Linked DNA regions of Homo sapiens. The protein of the gene in region 1 interacts with the protein of each later gene in a pairwise test. Each region holds a gene or a part of one and is shown in the gene's direction. Other genes may lie near its edges.

Evidence for each region. The genes of interacting proteins can lie anywhere in the genome.
Region 2: the proteins of PKP1 (region 1) and HSF2BP interact in binary tests that used the Homo sapiens proteins (3 or more experiments, as listed by UniProt).

Annotation. Positions count from the first base shown.
Region 1 is NC_000001.11:201,325,006-201,328,505, forward strand, and holds part of PKP1 (plakophilin-1), read left to right. Parts: coding exon 1-122; intron 123-748; coding exon 749-833; intron 834-3,500. UniProt on the Homo sapiens protein: A component of desmosome cell-cell junctions which are required for positive regulation of cellular adhesion.
Region 2 is NC_000021.9:43,607,489-43,610,988, reverse strand, and holds part of HSF2BP (heat shock factor 2-binding protein), read left to right. Parts: intron 1-999; exon of another isoform or gene 1,000-1,102; intron 1,103-3,500. UniProt on the Homo sapiens protein: Meiotic recombination factor component of recombination bridges involved in meiotic double-strand break repair.

The DNA of each region.
Region 1 (3,500 bases):
GAAGACATCTTGTCCTCGGCCTGCTACACTGTGAGGAACCTGATGGCCTCGCAGCCACAACTGGCCAAGCAGTACTTCTCCAGCAGCATGCTCAACAACATCATCAACCTGTGCCGAAGCAGGTGGGCGGGGGGTTGCTCCCACGGGCTGCACCCCAATCAGAGCCCCTCCTCACCCTGCACAGCAGGAAGCAGTCCCGCAGCTCTCCATGGAGTAGGGGAAGCACCAAGGGCAGGGGGAGCCAGGGACGGGGGAGGCTTGAATGGAGGAGAAGTTCCAGAAGCCGAGAGTGCGTGGAGAGAAGGGTCCAGCATCCAGGCCCCAGGGCTGCATGGAGGGAAGAGGCAACACACTTCCTGGCTGGGGGACTCGGGGGCACAAGGTCCTCAGAGGGCCAGCAGGAGGCATGGGGCAGCAGGTCCAACTGAATAGGGACTTTATCCTGCTCTGTGGGGCTCTCTCTTCCCCGGACAAGGCTGGGGACTGGAGTGGAAGAGCACTGCCACCTCATGGCCCCTGAGGAGAGTCCTGGGGTGCTCTAGGTGGGCAGGGGCATGGGGTTGTGCCCACTGGGTAGGGTGACCAGGCTCACCACACCCCAATGGGGCTCCTCTCTTTTGCACACCTGAGGCCTCCTCTGAGGCCTCCCCTGTGTCCAGGCCCTGGCAGTGGGGGTGGGAGGGAAGAGGGTGCTCCTTCTCACACCTCCTGGAATCTCATCTCACAAATGCACTTCTCACCTGCCCAGTGCCTCACCCAAGGCCGCAGAAGCTGCCCGGCTTCTCCTGTCTGACATGTGGTCCAGCAAGGAACTGCAGGGTGTCCTCAGACAGGTAAGAGCCCAGGACATCATCCTCTTCTGAGGTTCTTCCTGCTCATGAGCAGAGGGCCTGGCATATGCTGGGCTCTGGGCTGGGCACTAGAGAAACGCCCCTGCCCTTCGGGACAGTCTGAGAGACAAAGACAGCGTCTACGTGAAAATGAATGTGATGAACGTTCTGATCAAGTCTCTGGGCTCTGAGATCTGCGAGGGATGCTGAGAACATGGAGGGCAGAGGAAATCAAGGAAATGTGTGAGAGGCCTGGGGTGGGATCCTTTAGGAGCAAACTGAAAAACAGAGTGGACAAAAAGCACACAAGTCTTTTGAGGGCATGGGGTTCACTCCAGCTAGAAAAGTAGGTGTGGGCTAGGTTACAAAACCCTTCTAATGTCAAACTGAAGAGCTTGGACTTGTACCTTTGGCACTGGGGAACCATTCAAAGTTTTGAATAGAGGGTTTCATGATCAAAGCAGCACCAAAGCTCACCCTGTGAGCAAGGCAGAGTGGGCTGAGAAGCCTGGAGGCTGCTGTCCTTGTCCTGTGGTGACCTTGGCCTCCTCTCTGTCCTCCACCCCTCCCCAGCTAGCCAGGTACAGAGTCCTCTAGGGTATAAGGTCTTGTTGTATGACATCTTCACATGGCCTCTTCTTTCCCATTCCTCAGTGATAAGCATGGACATAAAGGACAGGAGGTGGAAGAAATGGAGCAGTGGGGCTGATTAGGCTGGAGCTTTTAGCTTGGAGACTATGGTTATATTCATAAAGACACATCAGATGAGGAGAGCCTGAGAAGGCTTTTAGGTGGGAGTAAGAGGGGTCCCAATTTGGAGAGGTTGAGTTTGGAAGACTTGGATGGGAGTCCAGGCTGGAGGTGGTGTGGGCCCTGGCAGAGGGGCCAGAGCTACCATACAGAGTGGAGCTTTGTTCAGGCAGGCGAAGCCATGAGAACAGGCAAGACCACCATGGGTTGCATGTGTATGGAAAAGTCTTGAAGGACAGGGCAGAAATATGAAGACCATCTGCTGGGGACAAGAAGGAGGAAAGGCCAGGGAAAAGAGGAACTGTGCAGGGTGCCAGAAGGGGCTGAAGACCTGGTAAGAAGAGAAAGCTCTAAGGAAGGCAGGGCAGCAGTTCCCAGGGCTACCTAGAGGACCAGGGGATGGACACTGGAAAAGGCCCTGGATCCGGTGCTTCGGAAGTCTCTGGAGCCGTCCAGGAGCACTGCTGGCCAAGCAAGGGGAGCCCCATGGGGCCTGCTGCAGTGGGCAAGGCAGTGGATGGGGATGGATGGGGAGTTGCTGAGAGGAGATGCTGCTCCCTGCAATTTAGCCTGCAGAAAAAGGAGCAAAACAGTGGGTAAAAAGAGATCTGTTTAAAGACAGAGGAGACTCAAGCATCTCTGTCATGGGAGGAGAGGGAGTAGGCAAAGAAGGGAGAAAGACAGGGATGGAGGACAGGGAAGCCTGGGGATTGGTTGAGCAGCGTGGGGCAGAAGGAAGCCCAGCTCTTCCTCCAGCATGGCAGGGGACAATAGGGAGACTCATGAACGCACGGTGTCCAAAGATGATTGGGGAAATCTGAAGGTCACAGCAAAGGGTGGCCCTTGTTCTCCATGTGACAATCCAGAGCTCCTTTCCAACAGCACTGCATTGAAGATGGGCTTGGCAAATGGCAACTGCCAGATAGACAAAGGGAGACGAGGAGGCAGGTAAGGAGGACTGGTGTGAGCTTCCTCCCGCTGTGTAATGGTGGTCCAAAGCATTCAGCTTACCCCAAAACACAGAGTCCACCCCCGGCCTAAGACACACAGAGAATCCACTGACATCGCTCTCGGTGGGAATTCCCTTCTACACATGCCTTTGGGAACCAGCGTCCCCATTCAGTCTCCACTCCTCCTTCCAGCTATGCTTGACAACCATCCTGGGCATGATCTAGTTGGTGCGTCTGTTCCCAAAGGGCCTTCACATCCATCATGCATTGAGTTGTCACAAGCACAGGTGAGACAGGCCACATGGCTTGTGTCCATTTTGCTGAATAGGGAATCAGGGTCCAAGGAGTTTGTCTTGATTCAGTGAGTCAGGGCATGAGCCATGCTCGACAGGAATGAGCATGCCAATCTGCAGAAGAAAAATGGCATCATGTAATACATGCCCAAAGACAGGAGGGGCAGGGCTTCGAACCGGCTGCTGTTTCGGATCCCCTATGCCATCTCCCCTCCTGTTCCCACAGGTCGGTGATGGCTGGCTTGGCTCTCAGAGCTCAGGGCTGGCAGCAGGACCCTCTTTTCAAGGGCACCTTGGCCTATTGCTGCATTCAAATCATGCTGTCCACATTCACTTGGAAGCATGTATTGGGCACCTGCTGTATGCTGGGAGAAATAACAGGAATAAGACTCACTCTCCATCCAGCAGGCACTCAGGGGCTAGTGGGGCTGGAGGTGAAGAACAGACAAGTAAACAGAACCTTCTAGCACAGCGGCTTCTTACCAGTGCGAGCCCCCTGCTCCTGTGTTTGAGAAACAATGGGCATGTCCTCTCTGCCCAAGAGCTCTTGTCAGAATTGTTTAAAAAAAGAAAAGATAGAGGTGGTCAGAGGGAAGAACAATTGACAGCTTCTCTAATCTGATTTTGATTGTTGCTCTGTTTAAAAAATAATACTAGCCTAAATCCTCACGCCTTGA
Region 2 (3,500 bases), on another chromosome or scaffold:
TAGTTCATTCCTTTTAAGTACCTTGCATCAAAGGAGATGTAATATTTGGATTATCCTTCCCTGACTGATGGGCATTTAAGTTACTTTCGGGTTTTACTTGACAAATATAATGCCGTAGTGAGCATCCTTGATAAACTCTTTGCTAACCTGTCTGAGAGTTCTCCAGGAGTTTTCCCAGAGGAAATATTTGAGAAGTAGTACATGGACATTTTCAATTTGATAAGATACTGCCAAATTGGTCACCATAGTGTACATTTCTACCTGCACCATGTCAGTGTTCGTGTTTCCCACGTCCTTGTCAGCACTTTGCTATTTATTATATTCCTCTAAAGAGAAAAAATATATGTGTATATGGAGAGAGAGGTGCCGGGGGAAGAGGGGGAGAGACAGGGTCTTGCTGTGTTACCCAGGCTGGAGTGCAGTGGTGCAATCACGGCTCACTGCAGCCGCGACCTCTGGGGCTCAAGTGATCCTCCCATCCCAGCCTCCCAAGTAACTGGGGTCCCAGCTACTCTGCACGCCACCATGCGCAGCTAATTTTTTTTTTTTTTTTGGTATTTTTTGTAGAGACAGGGTCTCACCTTGTTGCCCAGGCTTGTCTCAAACTCCTAAGCTCAAGTGATCCACCTGCCTCAGCCTCCCAGAATGTTGGGATTACAGCGTGAGCCACTGGACCTGGCCTTAAAGAGTATTTTTATCATCCACCTATCATCTGTCTGTCTTTGTCCTTCTCTCCCTTCCTTCAGATTTAGATTGCCAGTGAGGTTGAGGCTCTTCACATGTTTGTACCATTCCAGTTTTTCCTTTGAGTCACCTGTCTGTGTCTTGTGCCCACTTTCCTGTTGGGCTGCATTTTTCTTAGTGATCTGCTGTAGGTCTTTGTGTGTTCTGGATACTAATCCATTGCCTCTTTTGCTTCTGTGGTCTGTACAAGGTCCATATTTATGGGCCAGCTAAAGTCCCCCTTCAACTTCCAAGGCAAAGCTGTGTGTGAGGGCTGGGTCACTTCTAGCCTCTCCGGTTCCAGTCCCTGGAGCTCTGTGCCTTTGGGTCCTGGTGAGCTCTTGTTGATTGCAGTGGGAGATGGGGAGAATTGCCTTCAGAGCCATTCACTGACTTTCTTGGCAGTCTTCCATTTGGCCACTGAGCAAAGCCGCGTGTTTACCCTCTATCCTGACTCGGGATCTCAGCATGCACCAGCCTGAGAGGGGCCTTCCCCCTGGGATCTTTGGCTGCCTTCCAACATGCTCATGGCTTGTTCCGTCTCACCACATCTCCAAGGCACTCTTCTCCCCTCTTTTCACCTCCCCCACTTCACTAACGCCCACCCTTGAGTCCTCTGGAGCCCCAAGACCTTTCTCATACTATAAATCAGCCTCTTTTCTTCCTGGCCTCCCCCTGCCTTGTGTATAGCTTGCCTCTCTCTGGGGAACTACACTTTCACTGCCACTTTCATGATCGAAGGTCACTCATTTTCAGCAGTTAGTACCTTAGACCCAGAGATAGGGGTTATTTTTTTCCTAGTTGCCCATTTTTTAAAAAAATTTAAATTTAAATTTTAGATTCAGGGGGTACATGTGCAGGTTTGTTACAAGAGTATATTGCGTGATGCCAAGGTTTGGGCTTCTGTTGAATCTGTCACTCAGATAGTAGATATAGTACCCAATAGGAGATTTTTCAGTCCTTGTTCCTCTCCCTCCCTCTCTCCTTTTGGAGTCTCCAGTGTCTCTTGTTCCCATCTTTATGTCCGCGTATACCAAGGGTTTAGCTCCCACTTATAAATGAGAACATGCAATATTTGGTTTTCTACTTCTGGATTAATTCACTTAAGATAAGTGGAGGCAGCCTCCAGCTGCATCCATGTTGCTGCAAAGGACATGGTGGTGGTCTTTCTTTCTGGCTGCGAAGTATTCCATGGCTTGTATGTACCACATTTTCTTTATCCAATCCACTGTTGATGGACACCTGGGTTGATTCTATGTCTTTGCTATTTTTGTTTTGTTTAGTTTTGTTTTTGAGACAGGGTCTGGCTGTTCCATTCACACTGGCATGCAGTGGTGCTATCTTATCTCACTGCAGTCTGAAAATCCTGGGCTCAAGCAATCCTTCTGCCTCGGCCTCCCAAGTACTTGGGATTACAGGCATGTGACATCATGCCTGGCTAATTAAAAAAAATTTTTTTTTTTTTGGTAGCGATAGGGGTCTCACTTTCTTGCCCAGGATAGTCTTGAACTCCTGAACTCAAGTGATCCTTTCACCTCAGCCTCCCAAAGTGCTGGGATTTCAGGCATGAGCCACCACTTATCTTTGCTATTGTGAGCAGTGCTGTGATAAACTTATAAGGGCAGGTGTCTTTTTGGTAGAACAATTTTATTTTCCTTTGGCTATTTACCAAGTAATGGGATTGCTGGGTTGAATGCTAGGTCTGTTTTTAGTTCTTTGAGAAATCTCCAGACTGCTTTCCATAGGTGCTGAATTAATTTACATTCCCACCAACAGTGTATACGAGTTCCCTTTTTTCAGTGGTTTTGCCAACATGATGTTTTTTGACTTTCTAGTAATAGCCATTTTGACTGGTGTGAGATAGTACCTCATTGTGGTTTTGATTTGCGTTTCCCTGATGACTAGTGATGTTGGGCATTTTTTCATGTTTCGTTGGCTGCTTATATGTTTTCTTTTAAGAAGTGTCTGTTCTTGCCCTTTGCCTGCTTTTTAATGAGGTTGTGTGTTTTTTCTTGTTGATTTGTTTAACTTAACTTCCCTATAGATTCTGGATATTAGACTTTTGTTGGATCCATAGTTTGCGAATATTTTCTCCCATTCTGTAGGTTGTCTGTTTACTCTGTTGATAGTTTTTTTTGCTGTGGAGAAGCTCTTTATTTTAATTATGTCCCAATTGTCAATTTTCGGTTTTGTTGCAATTGCTTTTGAGGACTCAGTCAAATTCTTTGCCTAGGCCGATATCCAGAAGACTATTTCCTAGATTTTGTTCTAGGACTTTTATAGTTTGAGGTCTTACATTTAAGTCCTTAATCCATCTTGAGTTAATTTTTATCTGTGGTTAGAGGTAGTGGTCCAGTTTCATTCGTTTACATATGGTTAGCTATTTTTCCCAGCACCATTTATTGAACAGGGAGTCCTTTCCTCATTGCTTATTTTTGTCAATGTTGTCAAAGGTCAATTGGCTGTATGTGTGCAGCTTTAATTTCTGGGTTCTGTATTCTGTTCCATTGGTCTATGTGTTTATTTTTGTACCAGTGTTATGCTGTTTTAGTTAGTGTAGCCTGGTAGTATAGTTTGAAGGTGGGCAGTGTGATGGCTCTAGCTTTGTTCTTTTTTCTTAGCGTTGCTTTGGCTATTTGGGCTCTTTTTTGGTTCTATAAGAATTTTAGAAGAGTTTGTTCTAATTCTATGAAAAATGATGTTGGTAATTTAATAGCAATAGCATTGAATCTGTAGATTGCTTTGGGCAGTTTGGACATTTTCATGATATTGATTCT